Linked DNA regions of Homo sapiens. The protein of the gene in region 1 interacts with the protein of each later gene in a biochemical or structural test. Each region holds a gene or a part of one and is shown in the gene's direction. Other genes may lie near its edges.

What was found.
Region 2: the proteins of CD226 (region 1) and PDZD2 interact in a test that uses a peptide from one of them, tested with the Homo sapiens proteins (one large-scale study listed by IntAct).
Region 3: the proteins of CD226 (region 1) and FRMPD3 interact in a test that uses a peptide from one of them, tested with the Homo sapiens proteins (one large-scale study listed by IntAct).
Region 4: the proteins of CD226 (region 1) and PDLIM1 interact in a test that uses a peptide from one of them, tested with the Homo sapiens proteins (one large-scale study listed by IntAct).
Region 5: the proteins of CD226 (region 1) and RAPGEF6 interact in a test that uses a peptide from one of them, tested with the Homo sapiens proteins (one large-scale study listed by IntAct).
Region 6: the proteins of CD226 (region 1) and ARHGEF11 interact in a test that uses a peptide from one of them, tested with the Homo sapiens proteins (one large-scale study listed by IntAct).
Region 7: the proteins of CD226 (region 1) and PALS2 interact in a test that uses a peptide from one of them, tested with the Homo sapiens proteins (one large-scale study listed by IntAct).

Annotation. Positions count from the first base shown.
Region 1 is NC_000018.10:69,888,572-69,892,774, reverse strand, and holds part of CD226 (CD226 antigen isoform a precursor), read left to right. Parts: intron 1-4,203.
Region 2 is NC_000005.10:32,086,179-32,090,381, forward strand, and holds part of PDZD2 (PDZ domain-containing protein 2), read left to right. Parts: intron 1-952; coding exon 953-4,203.
Region 3 is NC_000023.11:107,452,439-107,456,641, forward strand, and holds part of FRMPD3 (FERM and PDZ domain-containing protein 3), read left to right. Parts: intron 1-4,203.
Region 4 is NC_000010.11:95,238,632-95,242,834, reverse strand, and holds part of PDLIM1 (PDZ and LIM domain protein 1), read left to right. Parts: intron 1-4,149; coding exon 4,150-4,203. UniProt on the Homo sapiens protein: Cytoskeletal protein that may act as an adapter that brings other proteins (like kinases) to the cytoskeleton. Involved in assembly, disassembly and directioning of stress fibers in fibroblasts.
Region 5 is NC_000005.10:131,428,754-131,432,956, reverse strand, and holds part of RAPGEF6 (rap guanine nucleotide exchange factor 6), read left to right. Parts: intron 1-1,607; coding exon 1,608-2,098; intron 2,099-3,740; coding exon 3,741-4,055; intron 4,056-4,203. UniProt on the Homo sapiens protein: Guanine nucleotide exchange factor (GEF) for Rap1A, Rap2A and M-Ras GTPases. Does not interact with cAMP.
Region 6 is NC_000001.11:156,934,340-156,937,742, reverse strand, and holds the end of ARHGEF11 (rho guanine nucleotide exchange factor 11), read left to right. Parts: intron 1-246; coding exon 247-494; intron 495-737; coding exon 738-927; intron 928-1,498; exon of another isoform or gene 1,499-1,612; intron 1,613-1,684; coding exon 1,685-1,743; 3' UTR 1,744-2,903; downstream 2,904-3,403. UniProt on the Homo sapiens protein: May play a role in the regulation of RhoA GTPase by guanine nucleotide-binding alpha-12 (GNA12) and alpha-13 (GNA13). Acts as guanine nucleotide exchange factor (GEF) for RhoA GTPase and may act as GTPase-activating protein (GAP) for GNA12 and GNA13.
Region 7 is NC_000007.14:24,674,015-24,678,217, forward strand, and holds part of PALS2 (protein PALS2), read left to right. Parts: intron 1-4,203.

The DNA of each region.
Region 1 (4,203 bases):
ACACAGACACGGACACACACACAGAGAGGGGCTCTTCCCCTGACTCCTACCTGCCTGCATTCATCTTCAGACAAGTACCAGGTCACTCAACAGAGGACCCCTGCCAACCAGCAGGTCAAGTATCCAGGCCTTGATTGGTTTTGAACAGAGGAGAAAATGGCAGAAGCAAGAACTGAACTCACATTTACCACTGACTTTCTTTGCTGAGTGAAAAGAAATACATTTCTCTTGTCCTTTGCACTTATGTCCTGAAATGTAGAATGAAATAATTCCAGACTGACTTTTCTGAATTTGAAACTTGCCTGGACCGAAGGGCAAGGAAAGTGGGGACGGGGGGAGCACAGGGGAATGTCTGTTTATTGACAGTGACTACAGTTATTTTTGGCCCTTAACATCCTCTGGATTTTCATTTGTCATAAGAGAAGTATTTTAGGTGCCACTAAAATAATTTGTCAAATATTTTAATATTAGCTAAATGATTTGCAGACTACTATTGTTTAAACTGACCTTATTGGCTATAAAAAGAATGAAGGCAAAAGAAATAAAATCAGCTCTTGCAGAAAGTTTCTGGAGGAGGCTAATATTGAAAAAACTTCTGTTTGCTATTGATAAGTATAATTACTCATGTCCTTGTATAATCGTCTTCCACCAGTGAGACCACTCAGGCGGGACCATCAAGGTTCAAATGAGGCATTGATGATTAGAGCTGAGGAATGACATGAAACAGGTTATGAAGAGTAACCCCAAATATGCAGGAGGAATGGGGAGATGGTGCATGGGAGACTGTAGTCAAATGACTAGGTTGGTATGGAGAGTCTAAGTTATGTATTAATATGGGACGAGGTAGGTTAAATTAAGTGATGACAGTGAAAACCTGCATCTCATATAATTGTCAAGCAAAGCTACCATTAGTTCTTGAGCAAAGATGGCAAAACAATAATCATGAAAGAATAAGTTGCTATATGATTTTCAGTGTGCAAGTCTTTAACATTTTTGGTTAAGTTTATTCTTAAATACTTTATTCCTTTTATTGTTATTGGGGATGGGATTTTGTTTTAATTCCTTTTTTGGATAGTTTGCTGTTTGTGTACAGAAACCTGACTGATATTTTATATGTTGATTTTTGTATCCTGCCTCTTAACTGAATTCATTTATTAGTTTGAACAGGTTTTTTTGTGGCACTTTTAGGGTTTTATACATATATGATTATGTCATCGGCAAACAGAGATAATATTACTTCTTCCTTTCTGATTTGAATGCCTTTTGTTTTCTTTTTCTTGTTTAATGGCTCTGATTAAGACTTCTTGTACTATGTTAAGCAGAGGTGTTGAAAGTGGCCACCTTTGTCTTTTTCCTGATCTTAGAGCAAAAGTTCTCAGTCTTACATGACTTGGTATGATGTTAGCTGTGGGCTTTTCATAGATGGCCTTTATTGTGTTGGGGTAAATTCTTTCTGTACCTAATTTGTTGAGAGTTTTTTTTTTTTAATCACACAAGGATGTTGAATTTGTCAAATGCTTTTTATGCTCTATTTTGATGATCATGTGGCCTTTTTATATCACTTTGTTAATGTGGTGTATTACATTGATTGATTTACATATGTTGAACCATCTTTGCATGCCAGGGATAAATCAGAATTGATTAGAATATACAATCCATTTAATGTGATGGTGAATTTAGTTTGCTAGTATTTTGTTGAGGATTTTTTCATCTGTGTTCATTAGGGATGTCAGCCTGTAGGTTTTTTTTTTTTTTTTGTGGTGTCTTTGTCTGGTTTTGGTATCAGGGTGATGCTGGTCTCATAAACTGAGTTTAGAACTGCTTCTTTTTTTAAAAAAGAATTAAATCATTTATTGATTACACATGATAATGTAGAACTGTTTCTAAACTCAGGATTGGCATTAATTCCTAGAATGTTTGATAGAATTCATCTGTGAAGCCACCTGGTCCTGGGATCAGTGATGGGTCATAGGCCACTGATCCACCTACCTTTGTAGGCACAAAGGTGTCCTACACAGGGTAGAGAGATACTGTCAGCATGATTTGAATCTCAGTTTGTGCTTTCCACTGCCTCAAAACACTCACACTTTCCTACTTTCTCCTTTTTCTAACTGACTAAGTTTCCATCACATTTGCTTTCTTTCCTATAGAGTTTCAGCCGTCTCAATGTCTATGTTTTTTTCCACATCAGACCAAACTGCTTCCCCATCATTGAAATATTAAGCATCTTGGATTTCTCAAACTTTTATAGTCTGAAAATTGCTACCCTCGAGTGACTTATTAACTTCCATCTATTTGTATTTATTTATTTATTTATTTTTTGAGACCGGGTTATGAGACTGGCTAATTTTTGTATTTTTGGTAGAGATGGGGTTTCAAGGATGGTCCTGGGCTCAAGCAATCCCCTGCCTCAGCCTCCTAAAGTGCTGGGATTGGTAGTGTGAACCACCACACCTGGCCTGCATCTATTTGTAATGTTCCAAACTCTGGTTATCAGAAATTAATTGAGATTAAGGATTATGGCATCTGCTTAAAGTTGTCAAAGCATCTTTTCAGAATATGCCCAGTAAGTGTTCTTGACCGATTATGTTAATGTTTCTATTCATTCTAGTAGGGGCTGTGTCCATTTTAATTTTAAGTTTTCTACCTCTTTTCTTTCCAGATTTTTTTTCTTCAACGTTTAACCTTTGAGGTTTACTGATTGTTGATCAAAGAAACTGAACTTTCAAAAGATCAACTACAGTGATTGGAGAAAAAACTTTCATGAACTCTTGTTTACATATATAACTTTCAGATAGGGCTATTTACTTTTTTAACTTTCATTTTCTTATTTTGAATTTTTAATATAAGTGGCACATAATTGCTGGTCATCTGAATAGAAGGATGGGATTAGTAAATTAAGATTACAAAACTATTCACTAGGAAATCATAGTGCCACAGCTAAGAGAATCTTCCCAGATATTTCCTCTGGGACGATGTGAGGTATAGGATTGACAAGGAGGAAGGACAGGGGAATAGAGTGCTGTAAGTTATAAATACATCCGTATATAGATGATACATCTTATTTATACAGATTATAAATCTTGCCTGTAGATGGCTTGTGGGAGGTTACTGACTTTGAGACTCTGTGCTCCTGAGTTGGATTATAAAATTATTGAAGAAAGGAAATAAATTTTGCTTATTTCCTTGGCCTTTTATTTCTGTCAAAAACCAACCAGTTTGCTCCCAGTCCATTTGGATTCCAGAAGAGTTTCAGGTTGTAGACAAGACAGTTTTTTTTTTTTTTTAAGGATTCCATTAATCCAGAACCTTCTGTCCCACTCCTATGAATTTAGAATAGATATAAAGCTTGTGGACATGAGGATTGTCTGAACTGGTGTGCACTGGGCTGACAGATATGTCCCTTTCCATGACATTGTGTGGTGAACCTCAGCCTTTTATTATCTTTACCTACATGGAAAGTAAAATGTCCATGACAGTTAATTTATATGATGGAGCAACACGACCAGAATCCCAGAGCACCGTGTCACTGCTCACAAGCTAAAATAACCTCTACTCAAACAGATCAACCACAATTTTCAGCCCAATTTAGTTTTCTCGGTGAAACTGGGTATCCAGATGAAACATAGTTTCCAGCATCACAAGTGAGTTGATTACTCAATCATGGCTATTATGTGGTTGAATCTTTACTTTACTGTTGCCTCTGCCCAGATCATTTTTTTTAATGATCTATTGCATTCAAAAAAATGCAACCGGTCAGTTAATTTGTTTTGTAAGCCCTAGTATTGATCTATTCATTTTTTGAACACACAAAAACCTAGAATGTTTGCCTGCAGTCATTTTTTATACATACTATTATTGTATAGATAAGTAAGATATTGAATAATAGTGATAAGTTATTGTCAGAGGGAATGAAACTCTAAAAGGTTACATGCTGAATTTATCTGATGACACTATTATATTGAAGAACATTGTTGACTGTACATTGCTACCTCATGTACATAAAGCAAGTTCTAACAGAACACCACTATAAACAATGCAAGTTTGTAGAATTAGAAAGCAGTTGATCCTAGGAACTGCTGTTCTACAGGTGGACCTTTATCTTCTGATTGAATTTTCAACTCTTTTCATAAAGTTTTTCTCTCCCTGGGAACTTAGACTACAAGTCAGGATTCACATTCAGACAAATGTACTGATTTTCTT
Region 2 (4,203 bases), on another chromosome or scaffold:
CTAAAAAGGAAGCCTCTTGAGCTCGGCACTTGGACTGTTTTACACTGAAGTACATCATTCACATCCCCCAGTGTGAGCCAAACCCACACACCACTGGCCAGATACTGGGACTGAGAGGTCCATGAGGGCCCTGCTGCATCCACGCAGGAGTAGGGAACCAAATAGAACAAGAGCCTGACGCTTGCGGCTTTGCCATCAGAGGGTGAATGGCATAAAGAGACCCAAGTGTGCAATGATTAAATCAGGGTAATCAGCATATCCATCACATCAAATGTATCATTTCTTTGTGGTAGGAACATCTGCCATCATAGAAATACCAAAAGAGAGAAAAATGGGCAGATGTAAATGTTTCTTCTGCCGGCTAATCTGAGTTCTCTTAGAGCGTCTAAAGCAGGGTGGTATTTGTTAGATGTGGGTACTCTATAATTTTAGAGAGAAAACCAGGAAGACAAGAAGGGCCTCCATTTAGGCCACAGAACGCCGTTTTGTTGTTGTTGTTGTTGTTGTTGTTTTCTGAGACGGAGTTTCGCTCTTTTTGCCCAGGCTGCAGTGCAATGGCACATTCTCGGCTCACTGCAACCTCCACCTCCCAGGTTCAAGCAATTCTCCTGCCTCAGCCTCCCAAGTAGCTGGGATTACAGGTGCCCACCCCCATGCCCAGCTAATTTTTTTTTTTTTTTTTTTTTTTTTAGTAGAGATGGGGTTTCACCATGTTGGCCAGGCTGGTCTCGAACTCCTGACCTCAGGTGATCCACCCGCCTCCGCCTCCCAAAGTGCTGGGATTACAAGCATGCGCCACCACGCCCAGCTTTCTGAAAAAGAAAAAAATATTTGAGGTTGTTTATAATTTTCTAGTTTTTAATAATTGAGGGGCTGCTTTCTTATATTATCCCTTTTATCTCCCCTACAACCTCTCCTGTGTATGTACCTTCTGTTTACGTTCCCCACGTAGAACTGGACAGCTCCTCAGACCTCATCTCTTCCCCAGGGAAGAAGGGGGCCGCTCATCCTGACCCCAGCAAGACCTCTGTAGACACAGGGCAAGTCAGTCGGCCAGAGAATCCCAGCCAGCCTGCATCGCCCAGGGTCACCAAGTGCAAGGCCAGGTCTCCAGTCAGGCTCCCCCATGAGGGCAGCCCCTCCCCGGGGGAGAAAGCAGCGGCTCCCCCTGACTACAGCAAGACTCGATCAGCATCGGAAACCAGCACACCCCACAATACCAGGAGGGTGGCTGCCCTCAGGGGAGCGGGACCTGGAGCAGAGGGAATGACACCAGCTGGTGCTGTCCTGCCAGGAGACCCCCTCACATCCCAGGAGCAGAGACAGGGAGCTCCAGGTAACCACAGTAAGGCTCTGGAAATGACAGGAATCCATGCACCTGAAAGCTCCCAGGAGCCTTCCCTGCTGGAGGGAGCAGATTCTGTGTCCTCAAGGGCACCGCAGGCCAGCCTCTCCATGCTGCCATCCACTGACAACACCAAAGAAGCATGTGGCCATGTCTCGGGGCACTGCTGCCCAGGGGGGAGTAGAGAGAGCCCTGTGACGGACATTGACAGCTTCATCAAGGAGCTGGATGCTTCTGCAGCAAGGTCTCCGTCTTCCCAGACGGGGGACAGTGGCTCTCAGGAGGGCAGTGCTCAGGGCCACCCACCAGCCGGGGCTGGAGGTGGGAGCTCCTGCCGTGCCGAACCAGTCCCGGGGGGCCAGACCTCCTCCCCGAGGAGGGCCTGGGCTGCTGGTGCCCCCGCCTACCCACAATGGGCCTCCCAGCCTTCGGTTTTAGATTCAATTAATCCCGACAAACATTTTACTGTGAACAAAAACTTTCTGAGCAACTACTCTAGAAATTTTAGCAGTTTTCATGAAGACAGCACCTCCCTATCAGGCCTGGGTGACAGCACGGAGCCGTCTCTGTCATCCATGTATGGCGATGCTGAGGATTCTTCTTCTGACCCTGAGTCACTCACTGAAGCCCCACGAGCTTCTGCCAGGGACGGCTGGTCCCCTCCTCGTTCCCGTGTGTCTTTGCACAAGGAAGATCCTTCGGAGTCAGAAGAGGAACAGATTGAGATTTGTTCCACACGTGGCTGCCCCAATCCACCCTCGAGTCCTGCTCATCTTCCCACCCAGGCTGCCATCTGTCCTGCCTCAGCCAAAGTTCTGTCATTAAAATACAGCACTCCGAGAGAGTCGGTGGCCAGTCCCCGTGAGAAGGCCGCCTGCTTGCCAGGCTCATACACTTCAGGCCCAGACTCTTCCCAGCCATCATCACTCTTGGAGATGAGCTCTCAGGAGCATGAAACTCATGCGGACATAAGCACTTCACAGAACCACAGGCCCTCGTGTGCAGAAGAAACCACAGAAGTCACCAGCGCTAGCTCAGCCATGGAAAACAGTCCGCTGTCTAAAGTAGCCAGGCATTTTCACAGTCCGCCCATCATTCTCAGCTCCCCCAACATGGTAAATGGCTTGGAACATGACCTGCTAGATGACGAAACCCTGAATCAATACGAAACAAGCATTAATGCAGCTGCCAGTCTGTCCTCCTTCAGTGTGGATGTCCCTAAGAATGGAGAATCTGTTTTGGAAAACCTCCACATCTCTGAAAGTCAAGACCTGGATGACTTGCTACAGAAACCAAAAATGATCGCTAGGAGGCCCATCATGGCCTGGTTTAAAGAAATAAATAAACATAACCAAGGCACACATTTGAGGAGCAAAACCGAGAAGGAACAACCTCTAATGCCTGCCAGAAGTCCCGACTCCAAGATTCAGATGGTGAGTTCAAGCCAAAAAAAGGGCGTTACTGTGCCTCATAGCCCTCCTCAGCCGAAAACAAACCTGGAAAATAAGGACCTGTCTAAGAAGAGTCCGGCAGAAATGCTTCTGACTAATGGTCAGAAGGCAAAGTGTGGTCCGAAGCTGAAGAGGCTCAGCCTCAAGGGCAAGGCCAAAGTCAACTCTGAGGCCCCTGCTGCGAATGCTGTGAAGGCTGGGGGGACGGACCACAGGAAACCCTTGATCTCACCCCAGACCTCCCACAAAACACTTTCTAAGGCAGTGTCACAGCGGCTCCATGTAGCCGACCACGAGGACCCTGACAGAAACACCACAGCTGCCCCCAGGTCCCCCCAGTGTGTGCTGGAAAGCAAGCCACCTCTTGCCACCTCTGGGCCACTGAAACCCTCAGTGTCTGACACGAGCATCAGGACATTTGTCTCGCCCCTGACCTCTCCCAAGCCTGTTCCTGAGCAAGGCATGTGGAGCAGGTTCCACATGGCTGTCCTCTCTGAACCCGACAGAGGTTGCCCAACCACCCCTAAATCTCCTAAGTGTAGAGCAGAGGGCAGGGCGCCCCGTGCTGACTCCGGGCCGGTGAGTCCGGCAGCGTCTAGGAACGGCATGTCCGTGGCAGGGAACAGACAGAGTGAGCCGCGCCTGGCCAGCCATGTGGCAGCAGACACAGCCCAACCCAGGCCGACTGGCGAAAAAGGAGGCAACATAATGGCCAGCGATCGCCTCGAAAGAACAAACCAGCTGAAAATCGTGGAGATTTCTGCTGAAGCAGTGTCAGAGACTGTATGTGGTAACAAGCCAGCTGAAAGCGACAGACGGGGAGGGTGCTTGGCCCAGGGCAACTGTCAGGAGAAGAGTGAAATCAGGCTCTATCGCCAGGTCGCAGAATCATCCACAAGTCATCCATCCTCACTCCCATCTCATGCCTCCCAGGCAGAGCAGGAAATGTCACGATCATTCAGCATGGCAAAACTGGCGTCCTCCTCCTCCTCCCTTCAAACAGCCATTAGAAAGGCAGAATACTCCCAGGGAAAATCAAGCCTGATGTCAGACTCCCGAGGGGTGCCCAGAAACAGCATTCCAGGGGGCCCCTCGGGGGAGGACCATCTCTACTTCACCCCAAGGCCAGCGACCAGGACCTACTCCATGCCAGCCCAGTTCTCAAGCCATTTTGGACGGGAGGGTCACCCCCCACACAGCCTGGGTCGCTCTCGGGACAGCCAGGTCCCTGTGACAAGCAGTGTTGTCCCCGAGGCAAAGGCATCCAGAGGTGGTCTTCCCAGCCTGGCTAATGGACAGGGCATATATAGTGTAAAGCCGCTGCTGGACACATCGAGGAATCTTCCAGCCACAGATGAAGGGGATATCATTTCAGTCCAGGAGACGAGCTGCCTAGTCACAGACAAA
Region 3 (4,203 bases), on another chromosome or scaffold:
ACCACAACCGCCTTGCAGTTGTGGGCTGAAGGCCACCAGGGAGAGGAGACTGGCCAGGGGAGGGTGGCAGCTGCCCCAGGCTTCTGGCCCTGAGGGTTTCCCAGATATGTGAGGCATTCTGCTGAGTGGCCAGACTATTGGCCTGAACTCAGTAAGTGCCCCCTCCAACATAAGCTCGTGATGCTGTTGGTGCTATGGCTTCTTTGGATAGTGCAACAGAGCCTCTACCCCACTGGAGGAGAGGTCTGGGGACTCCTATGAGGCTGCGAGCTGCATTTGGAATGAGTCAGGGGACCCCTCCCTCTTGTAAGTGGTGCAGTCCGAGGGTCTTGAGAAGTGAGCTGTGTGGCCCAGTTGGGGGATTTTGTGACCAACGACATCCTCTAGGAGCAGTAGTAGATTGAAAAAGTGCAACAAGAAAGCCCTGGGATTGCTGATGATAGCAGCAAGCTGGGAAAGGCTTGCTGGAGATGGGGGTGGGGGTGGGTAACAGAGGAGTCTCGGGTGGGATGAGTAGAGGAGAGGAATTGCCCCACCGCAGTAATCCTTACTTCAGCCCTTGGAGGGAGCATGGGTGGATGCAGGACAACGGAAGCACTCTGTACCCACCCTCCCCCACTACGCATAAATGATTGGACTCCGTGGCTAATGCCTGATAAGGCACTTGGAGGGGCAGCACCAATGCAACAGAGGAAAGATCCCTGTTTTTGTGGCACCTCCAGGCTAACTGAATGAAGCCATAAGACACACATACATACACATACACACAAATACACACACACATATCACACACAAGACACACACCCCTCAGACACACCCTCAAACCCCAACACATACCTGGGGCAAATTGTGGAAAGAGAGGCTCATGCAGACAAGCTTGGTTTTGGGGGGTTCTTGCCTTCACATATAGGCCCTAGCAATCATTGCTAGGGGGACTAGAATTGATACCTATTGATACTAGATGAAGACCCTTAGCTTTGACAGGCCCCCTGGGAGGAAGCACACTCAAGTCAGCTTCTGTTTGTGGGGCAGCCTTAAGGCCATTAGCATTCCCAGCAGAAAATTCTGTTCTGGCTCTTCTCTCAAGGACTTCTATTTTCCTTTTTACCATAAGTTCAGAAACAAAAACATTCTCTTGCATTATCGGCAGCCAAAATGAAGGACTCTCAAAATGGGGTGGACCTTATTGTCTGCTGAGAAATCCTGGGGCTAGGGGCAAAGGGGTAGGGTAGGGAGCAAATCCAGAGAAACATGCCATTTTCCCTCCTTTCCTCCCCTCAGCTGAGCTGCCAAAGGCAAGGACAGTGATCTTGGGGTTCTGTATTATTTCCCACCCATGACAGGCAGAGCACCCTTTTCTGAGACCTGAGGCACCATCCTTAAAACAGAACATTAACAGCCTGTGGCACACTAGTGCCCAATCCCTGGTAGTCAGAAAATGAGCCTGGAAATGGGAATATGTGTATAACGTGGGGCGGGGAAAGGAGAGAGAGGGAAAGAGGTGCTACTTGTGTATCTGTAGGAGCAGGTGTGTCTATTTCTGTGTGTTTGTGTTAAGGAACATGAGAATGAGCAGGTGTGTGCACTCTTGCAGCTTTCTCAGCATGCATGCCGTAGCCAGTGTTTTTGCTCTGTGCCTCAAATTCACTTTGCCATTAGCCACACTACTAGCCACCCGCAGCTTTTGAAAGAACTCTCTGCTAGGTTCTAATATCTGGGTCTCCTTCCAGCCAAGTGACCCCTCCTTTTTTCTCTTTTATTGCTAGTTCTTCTTACTACCCCTCAAATCTGGGTGTTCTCCAGCTCCTCCTGCTTTCCACTTTCTTTATTGACAAGGACACACAGGCATGCATGGCTTCCCTTCTCACCTCTTTACCAACCATTCCCATTTCTCTAGCCCAAACTTAACCCCACTCCTGAGGTTCAGTCCTATATTTCCAACTGCTTGCTAAACATTTCCTCTTGGATAGCTTGCTCTCAGACTCAGTATTCACAAACTCATCTCATTATTTCTCAGAGATGACTCACTCTTCTCACCTTTCTTTTACCATAAGGCTTCTTGTCTCCCAGTCTAGAAACCTCAAAGCCATCTCTGACTCATCCCCTATGCCCCAGTCCACCCTGACTCCTGCCACCACCTCACAGCCACACTGCACTAGTCTCTTTCCTTTCCAGTCCATAATACACACAACTGCTAGATTAATGTTGTGGAATATCCTTTATTCATAATGCTTCTGATCATCATCCTTGGAGGGTGATACCTGATTGCCTGTGGGATAAATTTCAGCCTCCTTAGCCTGGCATTCAAAGTTCTCCTTGTGTGGACCTAACCCTGTATATTCTTCCAACCCTATTTCTCATGCTTGGTCCACATCATTGATTCTCAAATTTTAATGTGTCTTAAAATTGCTTGAGGGAACTTGTTATAATGCAGATTCCTGAGTCCTACCTCCTGAGCTTCTGATTCAGTAGGTCTGGAAGCTGGAGTCCAGGAATATGCATTTTAACAAGCTCCCCAAGTGATTTTGATACACTTGATCTACTTGTGAAACAAAGCCCTACATGGACCCTTCTACTCCAGCCAAGTTTCTTACCCCAGGATCTCCTAAACGTACCTTGTACATTTTTTTTGCCTCTATGTTTTTGTTCATTCCATTTCACTCACCAGGAATGCCCTTTCCTTTCTGCCTATGCTTCTCTCCTATTCCATATCACTATACCTATCCTTCAGCTCTACATTCAAATTCACCTCCTCTGTGAAATCTTCTCTGATCATTTTAGACTAAAGTGATCTCTCTCTCCTCTCAACTCCTCCGTCTCTAAAATACATTTGGGGCTGGGTGTGGTGGCTCAGGCCTGTAATCCTAACACTTTGGGAGGCTGAGGTGGGAGGACAGCTTGAGCCCAGGAGTTTGAAACCAGCCCTTGCAACATAGCGAGACCCTATTTCTACAAAAAACTAAAACATTAGCTGGGTATGGTGGTGCATACCTGTTATCTCAGCTACTCGGGACTACAGAGAGGCTGAGGCGGGAGGATGGCTTGAACACGGGAGGTCGAGACTGCAGTGAGCTGTGGTCGCACCAGTGCACTCCAGCCTGGGTGACAGAGTGAGACCCTGTCTCTAAATAAATAAATAAATAAAAATACATTTGGCAAGTACATCTTTTTTTTTAATTTTTTTAAATCCCCATAGCATATGTGCCTAATACACAGTAGGTACTCAATAGGCATATGTTGAATTGGACCAAATACTTGTTGATTCATATTAGACAGGGATTCTATCGCATCTCCCCCTGCACATTAGTTCATAAAACATTTATTGAGCACCAATTATGTACAAGGCACTGTGCTAGTTGCTGTGGATAATACAAAAGATGAAGGAGGCTTCCTGTCCTTCTCCTTCTCAGTCATCTTTGAATTTACAGTGCCTAGTGCATAGAAGAGATACTTAATAAATATTTGTTGACTACTCAAATGAATGACTTCATGAATAAGTGAAGGGATGAAGTTCAGACTGGAAAAAACTTGAGCAAGTACGTAGGGTGGCTGTGTCATAGAGAAATAGGGCAGGAATGGAAGATAAGGCTAGGAAGATAGAGTGGGTATAGTGGATGACTATTATTATTATTATTATTATTTTTAGAGACAGGGTCTCACTCCGTTGCCCAGATGAGTACAGTGGCATGATCATGGCTCACTGTAGCCTCAAACTCCTGGGCTCAAGTGATCCTCCCACCTTAGCCTCTCGAGTTGCTAGCTAATTTTTAGTGTTTCATAGAGACAGGGTCTTGTTGTGTTGCCTAACCTGGTCTCCAATTCCTGGGCTCAAGCAATCCTCCCACTTCAGCCTCCCAAAGCACTGGGATGACAGGCATGAGCCACTGTGCCCAGCCTGTCTTTACTTTTTCTTATAAATATTTTCAACCTCAAAAAAATTAGAGAAAATAGTATAGTAACCCCCACATACTCATTATCCACATTAACTAGTTATCAGGACTTTGCCATGTTTGCTTCACCTATCATGCCAAACATCGATCACATCATTTTATTCCTAATATTTCTCTATGCATTTCTTAAAAACTGGACATTTTCTAACATAACTACAGAACTGCTAATACACCTAACAAAAGTAACAATAATGCCTTTGTATTATCCATTACCCTGTCCATAATCATATGCCCTCAATTGTCTCAAAACATG
Region 4 (4,203 bases), on another chromosome or scaffold:
CAGCCAGAAAATGAGGGAATCCGTTTGGGATGCTTGAGGCATGATGCTTAGAGAAGATGCCCACCCAGGCCCTTCTGAGATCCCTCTAGGAAGGGCCAGGATCAGGGTGAGGTGAGGGAGGCACTGCTTTGAGGGCAGAATTTTTTTTTTTTTTTTGAGACCTCTGTCGCCTAGGTTTGGAGTGCAGTGGCGTGATCTCGTCTCACTGCAACCTCCGCCTCCCGGGTTCAAGCCATTCTCCTGCCTCAGCCTCCCAAGTAGCTGGGACTACAGGCACGTCCCACAATGCCCGGCTAGTTTCTGTATTGTTAGTAGAGATGGGGTTTCACCATGTTGGCCAGGCTGGTCTCGAACTCCTGACCTCAAGTGATCTGCCCGCCTTGGTCTTCCAAAGTGCTGGGGATTACAGGCATGAGCCACTGCGCCCGGCCTTGAGTGCAGAATTTAAGGGGGCACTGGAAAACTCAATAATCATGAAAAAAAATGACATTTAAATGCAATATTAAAAAAATTAATACAGGTAAAATATATGGTGAACAAAGTTGGAACTTTGGCCTCCTCCCAAAGGAAGGGAGGAAGGCTTGGGAAGGGCAAGAAGTTGCCCTAGGCTCGGGGAGAACAGAAGCACCAAGGTGGTTTCTCCTTATGCACCTGCTGGTGGGGCAGAACTGAGTCTTCCCCAAGCCCATCTGTAGAGCTCACCACTTAAAACCATGGAGCCTCCTAATCTCAGCCCCATCTCATGTGCTGCCAGGTGGACATCTGTGTGCATCGGTTCCCAGCGATGAATAGTCCCAGCTCTGAGGGGGGAAGCCTAAGTCTGAGCCATGGCAGCATGATAGGGCTATTGAGAGTTCAGGCTGCATTCACATATACCCTCTTGTTGTTCCCCATAAGCCAGCCAAGTACCCCAAACCATCTCTCATATTGTATTATTCAGCAGTGGGTAATCTGTATTTATGAGGGCTACCGGATAGCTGTGGCTCTGCTGGGCTTGGCAGGGCTGGACCAGGCCCCGAGTCCTCTCATTCAAGCCCAGGGAAGGGAGAGGCACTCTGGTGCTTGCTGTTTTCATGGCAGAGGCAATACCTCTGTGGGAACAGGGCCAAACCACACAAGTGCCCTTAGTGCTTTTGCCTGTATAAGGCTCACATCTGCTCACGTTGGCTAAAGTCAGGATGGGGAAGTCTACTCCATCGAGAGCAGGGTTTCTCAGCCTTGGTGCTATTGACATTTTGGGCCATATGAGTCCTTGTTGTGGGGCTGCCCTGTGTATTTTGGGATGTTCAGCAGCATCCCTGACCTCTGCCCACTAGACGCCAGTGGCATCCCCTTTCACTGTGACAATCGAAACTGCTCTCTAGGAGACAAAACTGCCCCCAGTAGGGAACCACTGACTGGAGGTAAGCATGGCAAGAGAGGGGCGGGGTAATTGTGGTCAAAATACAGTCAACCATGTATTCTAAATGCCCCTTGTTGCCAGGCACAGTGGCTACTGGAGAAGCTCTGGTGGGAGGATCGCTGGAGGGCAGGACTTTGAGACACAACATAGCGAGATGCTATCTCTAATCAGTAAAAATAAACAATTAATAAATGTCCATTGTGTGAACATGTGTCTCAATTTTTGGTTCGGAAGGATTGGTCAGCATACAGGGACTCACTTTCTGAAAGAACAAGAGAGCTAAGGCCCTTGTCTGTCAGCCCCGCGATTGCCCGACGTGACTGCAGTCATGGGGTGACCCTCTCTTCATCCCCTCACCTGGCACAGGAAGCTGTTTCTTTGCTCTTGTCCAGTGGTTCTTGGATCAGTGGCGCCTGGGAACTTGTTGGAAATGCAGTCTTAGGCCCCATCCTGGGCCTTCTGGCTCAGAAACTCTGGGGGTGGGGCCCAGCAATCTGTGTGTTAACAAGGCCTCCAGGTGATTTTTACCATTATTAATAGCTACCATGGTACAGGGCTTTGTTACCTAAGATGTGATGAGTGGGGCCTTAGGCAGCTCAGCATCTAGCTACTAGGGGCTTATTTTACACGCACCAGGCTGACTACAGAAAGGCTCCTTCCTCTGCTCTGTAGGAGATGATTGTTATCTGCCTGCTGTAGCATGCTGTATTCTGATGGTTTTGTTCTATCTGTGATGTGGATTTCTTTTCTAAGAACTTTATTTATTTTTAAATTTCCAACATTTAAGTTCAGGGGTACATGTGTAGGATGCACAGGTTTGTTACATAGGTAATGACGTGCCATGGTGGTTTGCTGCACAGATCATCCCATCACCTAGATATTAAGCCCAGCATCCATCAGCCATTCTTCCAGATGTTCTCCTTCCCCCACTCCCCACCATCTGACAGGCCCTAGTGTGTCTTGTCCCTCCACCATGTGTCCATCTGTTCTCATCATTCAGCTCCCACTTACAAGTGAGAATATGTGGTATTTGGTTTTGTGTTCCTGCATTAGTTTGCTGAGGGTAATGGCTTCCAGTTCCATCCATGTCCCTGCAAAGGACAAGATCTCGTTCCTTTTTATGGCTGCATAGTATTCCCTGGTGTATACGTACCACATTTTCTTTATCCAGTCTATCATTGATGGGAATTTAGGTTGATTCCATGTCTTTGCTATCATGAATAGTGAGTGCTGTGATGAACGTAAGAGTGCATGTATTTTCATGATAGAATGATTTATATTCCTTTGGGTATACATCCAGTAATGGGATTGCTGGGCTGAATGGTATTTGTGCTTCTAGGTCTTTGAGGACTCACCACACTGTCTTCCACAATGTTTGAACTAATTTACATCCCAACAGTGTGAAAGCGTTCTTTTTTCTCCACAACCTTGCCAGCATCTGTTGTTTTTTTACTTTTTAATAATAGCCATTCAGACTGGCGTGAGTCGGTATCTCATTGTGGTTTTGATTTGTATTTCTCTAATGATCAGTGATGTCGAGCTTTTTTTCATGTTTGTTGGCCGCATGTATGTCTTTTGAAAACTGTCTGTTCATGTTCTTTGCCCACTTTTTAATGGGGTTATTTTTTTCTTTTATTGAGATGGAGTCTCGCTCTGTTGCCCAGGCTGGAGTGCAGTGGCACAATCTCAGCCCATTGCAACCTCCGCCTCCTGGGTTCAAGTGATTCTCTTGCCTCAGCCTCCTGAGTAGCTGGAACTATAGGTGCATGCCACCACACCTGGCTAATTTTTGTAATTTTAGTAGAGAGGGGGTTTGGCTATGTTGGCCAGGCTATTCTCAAATTCCTGACCTCAGGTGATCCACCCACCTCGGCCTCCCAAAGTGTTGGGATTACAGAAGTGAGCTACTGTGCCCGGCTTATTTTTTTCTTGTAAATTTGTTTTAAGTTCCTTGCAGATGCTGGATATTAGACCTTTGTCAGATGGATAGATTGCAAAAATTTTCTCGCATTCTGTGGGTTGTCTCTTCATTTTGATGATAGTTTCTTTTGCTGTGCAGAAGCTCTTTAGTTTAATTAGATCCCATTTGTCAATTTTTGCTTTTGTTACAATTGCTTTTCGGGTTTTCATCATGAAATCTTTGCCCATGCCCATGTCCTGAATGGTATTGCCTAGATTTTCTTGTAGTGTTTTTATAGTTTTGGGCTTTACATTTAAGTCTTTAATCCATCTTGAGCTGATTTTTATATATGGTGTAAAGAAGGGATCCAGTTTCAATTTTCTGCATATGGCTAGCCAGGTCTCCCAGCACCATTTATTAAATAGGGAATCCTTTCTTCATTGCTTGTTTTTGTCAGGTTTGTCAAAGATCAGATGGTTGTGGGTGTGTGGTCTCGTTTCTGGGTTCTCTGTTCTCTGTTCTTCTACCAGTACCATGTCGTTTTGATTACTGTAGCCTTGTAATATAGTTTGAATTTGGGTGGCATGATGCTTCCAGCTTTATTGTTTTTGCTTAGGATTGTCTTGGCTTTTTGGGCTTTTCTTTGGCCAGGTGTTAATCTCCTATTTTATAGAAAAATAAACTGGGGACCAGAGAGGCTAAGTTACTTGCCCAGGATCACAGAGCAGAGTCACTCCAGTTCCCATGGCCTTGCTTGAACATATATTTATAAGTGGTTCTGAAGAGCTGAGTGATACTTATGCAATTCTGCCCTTCCTGGCCAATGACAGTGTTTTCCTCATTTCAGGGGATCCCAACAAGCCCTCAGGATTCAGAAGTGTTAAAGCTCCTGTCACTAAAG
Region 5 (4,203 bases), on another chromosome or scaffold:
CTAAATTTCTATTTAGAATCAAGCAACGTGGAAATCTTTGAGAAAGTTTATTCTAACTGATAAATATTGTGAAATCTGGTCTACTTTAATATGAAAAATTTAAGATAAATTATTACCACATTTATAAAGATTTCTAAACTAGGATCTCTACACCAGAGGTCAGCAAATGTTTTCTATAAAAGTTACATAGTAAACATTTTAGACTTCACAGGCCATAAGGCCTCTGTCACAACTACTCTGCTATTACACCAGAATAGCCATAGACAACACATAAACAAATGGCATGACTGTGTCCCAGTAAAACTTTTTTTTTTTTTTAAGGCGGAGTCTCGCTCTGTGAGACAGAGTGTCACTCTTGTTGCCCAGGCTGGAGTGCACTGGCGCGATCTCGGCTCACTGCAAGCTCCGCCTCCTGGGTTCACGCTGTTCTCCTGCCTCAGCCTCCCGAGTAGCTGGGACTACAGGCGCCCACCACCACGCCCGGCTAATTTTTTGTATTTTTAGTAGAGACAGGGTTTCACCATGTTAGCCAGGATGGTCTCGATCTCCTGACCTCGTGATCCGCCCGCCTCGGCCTCCCAAAGTGCTGGGATTACAGGCGTGAGCCACCACGCCCAGCCAAAACTTTATTTACAAAAACGAGCAAAGAGACCACCAGATTTGGCCCTGGGCTGTAGTTTGCTACCCCCTGCACTATACTGTAAATGAGGGGTTTACAAACTTTTTTTTGTGAAGGGCTGGGTAGTAAATATTTTCGCCTCTGCAATCTACATATAGTCTCTGTCACAAATTCTTCTGGTTTGGTTTTGTTTTCTTTTCTTTTTTAACCTTTTAAAAGGTTAAAAAACAGAACTATTCTTTGCTCCAGACCATACAAAAATAGGCTGTTGGCTAAATTTGGCCCATGAGCTTTAGTTTGGGGACCCCTGCTATAAATTATTCATTTCATGGGTAATTGGGGAAGTTGCTGTTTACTTGGCACTGTACTGGGCTAACCTCAGAGGTACGTTGAAAAATAAAACATGATTCTTCAAGTTGGGAACTCTTAATTCTGTATGCATGGACGCAGTAGTCTAATATTGTGATGACCAAAAATGAATATGTATACTTAACCTTATTCATTTCAACTCTCATCTTTACATTTTCATTTAAAATCAGTTCAAGAAAAATACTTGCCAGGCATACCTCTGGTCCATCCCAGCTGCTGGGGAGGCTGAGGCGGGAGGATCACTTGAGCCCAGGAGTTAAAAGCTGCAGTGCATCATGATCGTGCCTGTAAATAACCACTGCACTCTGGTCTGGGCAACAGAGTGACACCCTGTCTCGAAAAAAAAAAAAATATCTAACATTTTAAAATTTAAAAAGAAAAATTCTAAGGAAATTTTGCTAAGCATTAGAGTTTCTTTACTGTGTCTTCTGAGTGTTAACTAAATACTTACAAGGAATATAGTGATGAATGATGATAATATTGTTTTCCTCACGATGTTATTTGGCATGAACACTTGTGGTACGTGCTCTGTAGTTTCTCACAGGCAATAATAACTTGAAACAGAGAGAAGATAGTTTTTCTGGCAAGCCTTCTAATTGTACGTTATCTCCAATTTTAGGTGGACACTCTTGAAGCCATCTCTAATCAAGTGTTTAGCTGTCTCATCGTCTGTGAGCAATGAAGAGATTTCTCAAGAGCATATCATTATAGAAGCAGCTGACAGTGGTCGTGGAAGTTGGACTTCGTGTTCAAGCAGCTCCCATGACAACTTCCAAAGCCTTCCAAACCCAAAAAGCTGGGATTTTTTGAACTCTTACAGACATACCCATTTGGATGACCCCATTGCTGAAGTTGAACCCACTGACTCTGAGCCCTATTCCTGTTCTAAAAGCTGCTCTAGAACTTGTGGGCAGTGTAAAGGAAGCCTAGAGAGAAAGAGTTGGACCTCCTCCAGTTCTCTGTCTGACACGTATGAACCAAACTATGGGACAGTTAAACAGAGAGTATTGGAGAGCACCCCAGCTGAGTCATCTGAAGGCTTGGACCCCAAGGATGCCACTGACCCAGTTTATAAAACTGTCACTTCAAGTACAGAAAAGGGCTTGATTGGTAAGTTGTGTTTTTGTTGTCTGTGGCATTTAGAGATTAAGTAGTCAAAAAATGGCATTGGGATATCTTGGCCCTGGATTTTATCGTCGCAAAAATTCATTCTCTAACAACCTTTCTTTCCTTCACAAACAAACAAGTTATTTCCCAAAAATTCATGGTTTCTCAAAGACTTTGGAGCAGCTATTCAACCCCATTAAAATGAAAAGTCTGATGTGAAGGTATTTAATTAGAGGGACAAGTTTGTTTGTCTTTTGTTTTTAAGTTCTTTTTGGTTTTATTGAGGAATATCATCGCATTAGTGTGCAATAGTAGTAAAGGGATTATTCTCTTTATCACCTCATAAATTGTTTGGACCACAATTGGTATGCATACGTGGTAGAAACATTGAATCTGCTATTGATTTTAGGTCGTAACAGTGAGAGAAAATGCAATCAGGAAGTCCAGAACATTTTTCAGTATACTCTCTTGGTGTACATCATGAGTGTGCCAACTCCTGTTTGTGAATTCCATTCCAAGCTTTCTTAGTAAACTTTTTTTTTTAGTATTTGGCCATCAAATACTTTTTAAAAATTTCTTTCCTAAACTATATAAATACGTGGATATAAAACTGCTTTTCTACTTATATGGAATGACTCTACTTTGAATTAATATCATAATCAACTGTTAAATTTATGCAACAGTCATGGTGTCGCATTTAACTACTAAAAATGTGAAGGTGAAATGTGCTGATTTTATAGTTACTTGTCAAATTGCATTATAGGTTGGGTTTTTAGCTCATTCATTTTTTTCCAACTTTTTTTTTTTTTTTTGAGATGGACTCTTGCTGTATTGCCCAGGCTGGAGTGCAGTGGCATGACCTCGGCTCACTGCAACCTTCGCCTGCCAGGTTCAAGCAATTCTCCTCTCTCAGCCTCCCAAGTAGCTGGGATTACAGGTGCCTGCCACCATGCCCAGCTAATTTTTTTATTTTTAGTAGAGATGGGGCTTCATGTTGGCCAGGCTGGTCTCAAACTTCTCACCTCAGGTGATCCACCCACTTCGGCCTCCAAAGTGCTGGGATTACAGGCGTGAACCACCGCACCTGGCCAGAAGTAAAGTTCTTGAAGGAATTAGTTCCTCCGTACCAGCAAAGTTAAAGTTTATATGCTAGGACTGAGAACTAATCTGCCCAGGAGTGCCAGAAAACATTGGTTCATGTCTCAGAGAGAAGGTGAAACAGCCCTTAAACAGATGGCCCAAATGTCATTTCTATGTAAAGTCTCCCAGTTTACAGAGAATCGGTGTGTAGGGTGAACTTTTAAATGTTTCTGATATCTTTAGGGCTGGTGTGACTTCAGGAGTTGTCATGTACTTCTGTGATATGGGGGCTGAATTGCAGAAGGAAGCTTGTCATCAGTGTCATCTCCTTCAACTCTCTCGTTCTATTTAATGTTTACAGGACTTAATATAGTTGTTTATGTATTTTAAAAAGAGGTTTGTTTATTAAACTTTTAAAAAATGTTTTTGATCTGCCATCATTCAAGTTTATTCATTTTGTCTATTTTTAAGTTGTATTTTGTCATTGTAATAAGTTTGTGGGGTGGTTTCTTTTTTTTTCCATTTCTTTTTCATTAACATTTTCATTGCTTATTTTTCATGCCAGTGTACTGTGTCACCTCACCCAAGAAGGACGATAGGTATAGGGAGCCACCTCCCACTCCTCCAGGATATTTGGGGATTTCTTTAGCGGACCTAAAGGAAGGACCCCACACACACCTAAAACCTCCAGATTATAGTGTGGCAGTGCAGAGGTCAAAGATGATGCATAACAGCCTCTCTAGACTGCCACCAGCTTCTCTCAGTAGCAACCTCGTGGCCTGTGTTCCATCGAAGATTGTAACTCAGCCTCAGAGGCATAATTTGCAGCCATTCCATCCTAAACTAGGAGATGTGACTGATGCAGATAGCGAAGCAGATGGTATGTTGACAAGCTCTCTTAAAGGCTCTTAAATGAATTGCTGAACACATTAAATGGTCTTTACTTTGGTATTTTATGGTAATTAGTAATTGTTTCTTTAAATGCCTTGAATCTCTGTTAAAAAGTAAGAAGTTCCTGCCGGCAGGGT
Region 6 (3,403 bases), on another chromosome or scaffold:
CTTGAGTTCATCGCTCAGCATCTCCCCCAGCTTGGGGCCAGACTGAGCAAGTGTCATCTAGAAGGTCTCGGGAGCAGGGCTTTTAGGGGGCTGGCAGACAGTGAGCAAGGCCCACGTTCTCTGAGTTTGTCTGGAGAGGACTGCCTGGCCTGCTCTGTCAGGTGGCTGGGGAATCCCACAGGAACGGGAGGATAGCTTCGACTTCTCTGTTTGCCTCCTGATCTCATTCTCTTACTGTGGGGACAGGGAACTGCTTTTATGTCAGCATGCCATCAGGACCCCCGGACTCAAGCACCGACCACTCAGAGGCACCCATGAGCCCCCCTCAGCCTGACAGCCTCCCTGCAGGGCAGACAGAGCCTCAGCCTCAGCTGCAGGGAGGCAACGATGATCCAAGACGCCCCAGCCGCTCTCCTCCAAGCCTGGCCCTCAGGGACGTGGGCATGATCTTCCATACCATTGAGCAGCTCACTCTCAAGCTCAACAGGCTCAAGGTGAGGGAAGCAGGGCTTGGGTCCCTGCAGGCCTTCAGTCCATCACCCCAAAACCATTCCCCATGAGTGAGATGTGTGTCTTCGCGGGAGCCCTAGATCCTGTCCTGGCCCAGGGATCTTCCCCCAGCCCGCCCAGCCACCCTTAAATCACACCCTCCTCCCCAAGGCCCAGCACAGACCCCTTCCCCAGGGGCCTTAGGAATAGAAGGACTCGAGCAGACATTCCCCCGCCGACTCTTCCAGGATATGGAGCTGGCCCACAGAGAGCTGCTCAAGTCCCTTGGGGGAGAGTCATCTGGTGGCACCACGCCTGTGGGCAGTTTCCACACAGAAGCAGCTAGATGGACAGATGGCTCCCTCTCACCTCCCGCTAAGGAGCCCCTAGCTTCTGACTCCAGGAACAGCCATGAACTGGGGCCCTGCCCTGAGGATGGTGAGTGAAGCCAGGTCCCTCTCGGTTCCTACCATTGGGGGAGAAGTCTGCCAACTCGTGAGGACACATCACTAAGCAGTGAGAGATGGTGGTTCTGAGAGTGGTTTCCCCTTGAGTGAAACGAGTTCATTCTCTCAGCTTCAGAGAGGGATCTTTTTAGGGAAGTCCCACAGAAGCTCCCTGGCAAAATGGGGAGCTTAGCACTGAGCCCTCTTTTTCCTTGTGCTATGGAGGTAACAAACCAGGAGGAGCCTGTTCTCACCTCTAAGACTTGTTCTTTTTTTAATTTTATATATATATATATATATATATATATATTTTTTTTTTTTTTTTTTCTATTTATTTGAGACAAGGGCTGGCCTGGCTATGTTGCCCAGGCTGGTCTCAAACTCCTGGGCCGAAGTGATCCACCCACCTCAGCCTCCAAAGCAGCTGGGATTGCAGGTGCACACCATGGTGTCGGCCTAAGACTCGTGCTGATTAAATGATTCAGAACCACACTGGGTGGGCCAGGGACACAGCTATGTCATAACTCAGGAAGACAAGGCACATACCTACCTGACCTAAGGGCTTTAGGCGCTGATGAAAGTGGAGTTCAGTAGACAGCCCTTTTCAAGCCCTACGAGAAACTGGGGTTTCTGGAGGAGAAGGAAGGTGATGAAGGATCTGTTCTCGTGAGCCTGAACTTTCTAGACAAAACATGTGGAAGCGGTCACCTCAGGCTGGCCAGTTCCTCACCTTCATCCTCCTCCCACAGGCTCTGACGCCCCCCTGGAAGACAGCACAGCAGACGCAGCCGCGTCACCAGGACCATAACCGTACAAACCACCAAATCCTCTGCGTCCCCACTCCTCCTTCAGGGACTGGCCTGAGACCGGGGCACAGGGTAGGGGGGATCCCAACACTCCTCCCTGTGGAGGAGGCAGTTAGGGAAACTAGGATCCAGCCAAGGCCCGGGGGGAGACCCGCATGTTGCTTGGTCTGCTCAAGTCGGAGTCAGGTTTCAGTGTCTTTTCCCTCCCTTAGCCCAACCCTCCAAGGCCTCATGTCTCCTAAGCATGCTGACTGCATCCGAAAGGCCCCCACTCACCATGGTCTGCCCTCACCCCACATATGTGTGTACACGCGCACGCCTGTATGTGCGCTGCCCTCAGACATGCAAGTGAAAGGAGGAGGCTTCTGTGTAAATGCACTTTCTTCCTCCCCTCTTTCTCCATAAGACCCCAGGCAGAGGTGGGTGCCTCCCCTCCCCTCTTTGTCACTTTGGTTTCCTATAAATATGTATGTATCGTATGTGCATCTTTGCTATTGTAAATAACTTTGACCTTTTTTGTTCCTGTTCCTGAAGTGCTGGAGGCAGTTATGGAAGGAGCTGCTTAGGGAAGAGGGGTTTCACTTGTATCTCCTTAGTTAACAACCCAGTTCCAGGATCGAGCCTAAAGCGGGAGCCAGGCCTGAGTGTTCCTGTCCCTGTGAGTGGGAAGGTCTTCTGGCTCCCCATCCCACCTGGCTCCAGAGCCTGCCCTCCACAGCTTGCTGCCAAGCTACTCCCTCCCTCCCTGGACTTCTCATCTTCACAAGATGGGGATCATGGGGGTTTCTTACCCCACCTATGTCCCCCTCTTCCCCACCCTGTCCCTGTAGAAAACCAGTGAAGCAGGTACGGAGCTGAGGACTGGGCCCCAGGAGGTGGGGACAGGGGTCTGAATGCCGAGTCCCTGAATTCACCCAGGACCATCCAAGGGGCCACCGCAGCATTGGCCCCATCACCACGTCCTCACCCAACTCTCCCTGATGAATAGAATATACACACTGTGCTAGGTGTATATATACATATATATATATATAAATATATATATAATATATAAAATATAGATATGGAAATGACTGTTCTGCTGTTAAGATAATGTATACTCTTTTATTTTCTTCCTTTCATGGTTAAGATTTTTTTTTTAAGAAAAGTTAAATATCCTTCAGTGGTGGTGTGTGTGTTTCTTGGAATCGCTGTGATAAAAGGTACGGTGTTTGTTCCCTGTAAGACTGGTTAGGATTGGATAGTGGGAACCAGAGGGAGCCCTCTCACCCCCAGACCCAGATCTTGCCTGTTCCCTCCCAGAGCTTCAGCTGTGCACTCACTGAACTAGGGACTGGGCAAACTTAAGTTGTACAACCCCCATGGAGAAAACATGACAAGACACTGAACTCAGTTACACACACACAGATATATATATAGATACATATATATACACACATATATAGATATACACACACACACACATATATATACACATATATGTGTATATAAAGGAGCAGTGGACCCAGAGTCAAGAGGTCTCATGAGCTGCCCTCAATGAGCTTGAAGACTTTAAAAGCCAAATCTAAGTGGGAGGGTTGCCTCAGGCCTGGCCAGTTCATCACTGTCATCATCCATCCACATCCTCCCACAGACGCAGCCACATCACCAAGACTGTAACCA
Region 7 (4,203 bases), on another chromosome or scaffold:
AAATAGGTTCAATGATACATGTCTCTGTAGATGGCTACAGAGACTTTAAAATTGTAATCCCGAATATGCAACTATGCAACACAGACCAGTTAGCCAGATCTAAAATAATAAACTGGCTTCTTACAACAACTGTGCTGTTCCAACCCTTCTTCCCTCCACAATGACCTTAAACCTTACATGAGTACAGTTAATATGGCAGAACGGGAACCCATCTTTGTGACCAAAAGTAAAAACCGAAGAAGAAATAGCAATTCATCCATTAGTTGGGGAAAGCAAGAAATGTAGTGCCCTTCACTGTGCTGCTTACTCTTACTCATTTTGTCCCTATTCTTCAGCCCATCCATGTTAGCTCTTAATATGTTTGAATTAGCCATATGATTCAGCTCTTCAGTGCTCACCACAGTGCTGATCTTTTTCCCATCAGTAGCTTTTAAGACAATTATCAAGGGCTTAAAGCCCTCCACAGAACCTTTTCTTAGAATGAATGGGTTTAGTTCAACCATCATACATCTTCAGGGTAATGAACATGCTGCTGGACAACTGGCACTCTGGAAGAGCCTGGTCAGCTCTGTCTGTAACTGTGCTCTTCAACAGCACCATCTCCTCTCAAAGTATTTTCTTTCACTTGTGATTGCTTGTTTGATCCATTGGTTATTTGGGAGTATATTGCTTATTTTCCATATATTTTTGAATTTCTAAAATTTTCTGTTATAAAATTAAGGTGATTTAACTTTCTTTATATATTACAAAATGATCCTAAGATAAAATAGAAAAACATTGTTATTTTAGGGAGATGGGCTATGTTATGCATCCTGTTTTCAATTTAACATTGACATCTTGACATCTTGAGCTTAGTTAACAAATGAAGTATTACTTTGTTGATTGTGTCTTCATTATTTGAAGAGCAGCTAAAATTGAGAATTTTGCCTATCATAAAAAATTACTTCTAAAAAATCACATTATGTAGTTGCGCAGTATAGAAGTCTAAGGAATCAGTTGTAGTCAAACCTTCATGTTCTAATTTCTCTGTTCTAGAAATGGAAAGCAGTTTAAATATGTGGCAACGTAGATTGTTTTTTGAAGTGTTAGTAGAGAATAGGATTGTAGTTAAAATTCACTTGTAAACTAAAGAACATTTCTCTAAGAATTAAGATTCCCTCAGCATGGAGGTAGAGGTAATACATGTGCATATACATATTTATTTCAAGCAGCGCATTCCCCTATATGGTTTCACTGTAGGACTTCACCGAAAAAACATTAATTTTTAAAATTAATGTTCACAATGTTGAACCAAGTCCTATTATGCATTTATTTGGGGAGTTACAAGTTGCCTTAGAAGTTTTTTTATTTTTTTATTTTTTTAAGGTTTTTTTTTTTCCCCTCTTATTATTATACTTTTAAGTTTTAGGGTACATGTGCACAATGTGCAGGTTAGTTACATATGTATACATGTGCCATGGTGGTGTGCTGCACCCATTAACTCGTCATCTAGCATTAGGTATATCTCCCAGTGCTATCCCTCCCCCCTCCCCCCACCCCACAACAGTCCCCAGAGTGTGATGTTCCCCTTCCTGTGTCCATGTGTTCTCATTGTTCAGTTCCCACCTATGAGTGAGAATATGCGGTGTTTGGTTTTTTGTTCTTGCGATAGTTTACTGAGAATGATGATTTCCAATTTCATCCATGTCCCTACAAAGGACATGAACTCATCATTTTTTATGGCTGCATAGTATTCCATGGTGTATATGTGCCACATTTTCTTAATCCAGTCTATCATTGTTGGACATTTGGATTGGTTCCAAGTCTTTGCTATTATGAATAATGCCGCAATAAACATACGTGTGCATGTGTCTTTATAGTAGCATGATTTATAGTCCTTTGGGTATATACCCAGTAATGGGATGGCTGGGTCAAATGGTATTTCTAGTTCTAGATCCTTGAGGAATCGCCACACTGACTTCCAGAATGGTTGAACTAGTTTACAGTCCCACCAACAGTGTAAAAGTGTTCCTATTTCTCCACATCCTCTCCAGCACCTGTTGTTTCCTGACTTTTTAATGATTGCCATTCTAACTGGTGTGAGATGGTATCTCATTGTGGTTTTGATTTGCATTTCTCTGATGGCCAGTGATGGTGAGCATTTTTTCATGTGTTTTTTGGCTGCATAAGTGTCTGTCCATGTCCTTCGCCCACTTTTTGATGGGGTTGTTTGTTTTTTTCTTGTAAATTTGTTTGAGTTCATTGTAGATTCTGGATATTAGCCCTTTGTCAGATGAGTAGGTTGGGAAAATTTTCTCCCATTTTGTAGGTTGCCTGTTCACTCTGATGGTAGTTTCTTTTCCTGTGCAGAAGCTCTTTAGTTTAATTAGATCCCATTTGTCAATTTTGTCTTTTGTTGCCATTGCTTTTGGTGTTTTAGACATGAAGTGCTTGCCCATGCCTGTGTCCTGAATGGTAACGCCTAGGTTTTCTTCTAGGGTTTTTATGGTTTTAGGTCTAACGTTTAAGTCTTTAATCCATCTTGAATTGATTTTTGTATAAGGTGTAAGGAAGGGATCCAGTTTCAGCTTTCTATGTATGGCTAGCCAGTGGTCCCAGCACCATTTATTAAATAGGGAATCCTTTCCCCATTGCTTGTTTTTCTCAGGTTTGTCAAAGATCAGATAGTTGTAGATACGCGGCGTTATTTCTGAGGGCTCTGTTCTGTTCCATTGATCTGTATCTCTGTTTTGGTACCAGTCCCATGCTGTTTTGGTTACTGTAGCCTTGTAGTATAGTTTGAAGTCAGGTAGTGTGATGCCTCCAGCTTTGTTCTTTTGGCTTAGGATTGACTTGGTGATGCAGGCTCTCTTTTGGTTCCATATGAACTTTAAAGTAGTTTTTTCGAATTCTGTGAAGAAAGGCATTGGTAGCTTGATGGGGATGGCATTGAGTCTGTAAATTACCTTGGGCAGTATGGCCATTTTCACGATATTGATTCTTCCTACCCATGAGCATGGAATGTTCTTGCATTTGTTTGTATCCTCTTTTATTTCGTTGAGCAGTGGTTTGTAGTTCTCCTTGAAGAGGTCCTTCACATCCCTTGTAAGTTGGATTCCTAGGTATTTTATTCCTTTGAAGCAATTGTGAATGGGAGTTCACTCATGATTTGGCTCTCTGTCTGTTGTTGGTGTATAAGAATGCTTGTGATTTTTATGCATTGATTTTGTATCCTGAGACTTTGCTGAAGTTGCTTATCAGCTTAAGGAGATTTTGGGCTGAGACAATGGGGTTTTCTAGATATACAATCACGTCATCTGCAAACAGGGACAATTTGACTTCCTCTTTTCCTAATTGAATACCCTTTATTTCCTTCTCTTGCCTAATTGCCCTGGCCAGAACTTCCAACACTATGTTGAATAGGAGTGGTGAGAGAGGGCATCCCTGTCTTGTGCCAGTTTTCAAAGGGAATGCTTCCAGTTTTTGCCCATTCAGTATGATATTGGCTGTGGGTTTGTCATAGATAGCTCTTATTATTTTGAGATACGTCCCATCAATACCTAATTTATTGAGAGTTTTTAGCATGAAGGGCTGTTGAATTTTGTCAAAGGCCTTTTCTGCATCTATTGAGATAATCATGTGGTTTTTGTCTTTGGTTCTGTTTATATGCTGGATTACATTTATTGAGAAGTTTTATTATACACACCTTTGGTGACTAATTCCAGAAACCTTAAAGATCACACAGTTTTAAATATGAAAAGCCATCATAGCATCTTGAAGATTCTCAAAGATACTTTATAAATACTCTTCACAGTAGTCTAAGACGACCACTCTCAAGGTTGAGCCAGAAAACAAGGGGAAAACAGGAGTCCTATTATACATAATGATCTCATTTGACCCTTATTTTTGAGCATGAGTTTGAAGTTCATTTTGTTCTTATAAAAGTTTTCTATGTCTTAGGCTTATTAGAAATAGTCAAAACACTGTCATCTTTTTATTCGGATTACTTTCTTAGTTTAGTTTGGTGTAGTTAATAATTCCATCAGTTATTCTCCAACTACTTAGCTAATAGAAACAGGATACTTCTTATATCCGATCCAGCAAAGCCCAGAGTAAGGCTAAGCTTGAAATAACACGCTCAAAAATTACTTTTCTTCTTCAAAGCTGTTGTTAACAAAGTTGTCAGAGAGTACACATTTGCAACAGTTTAAAAAATGGTAATAA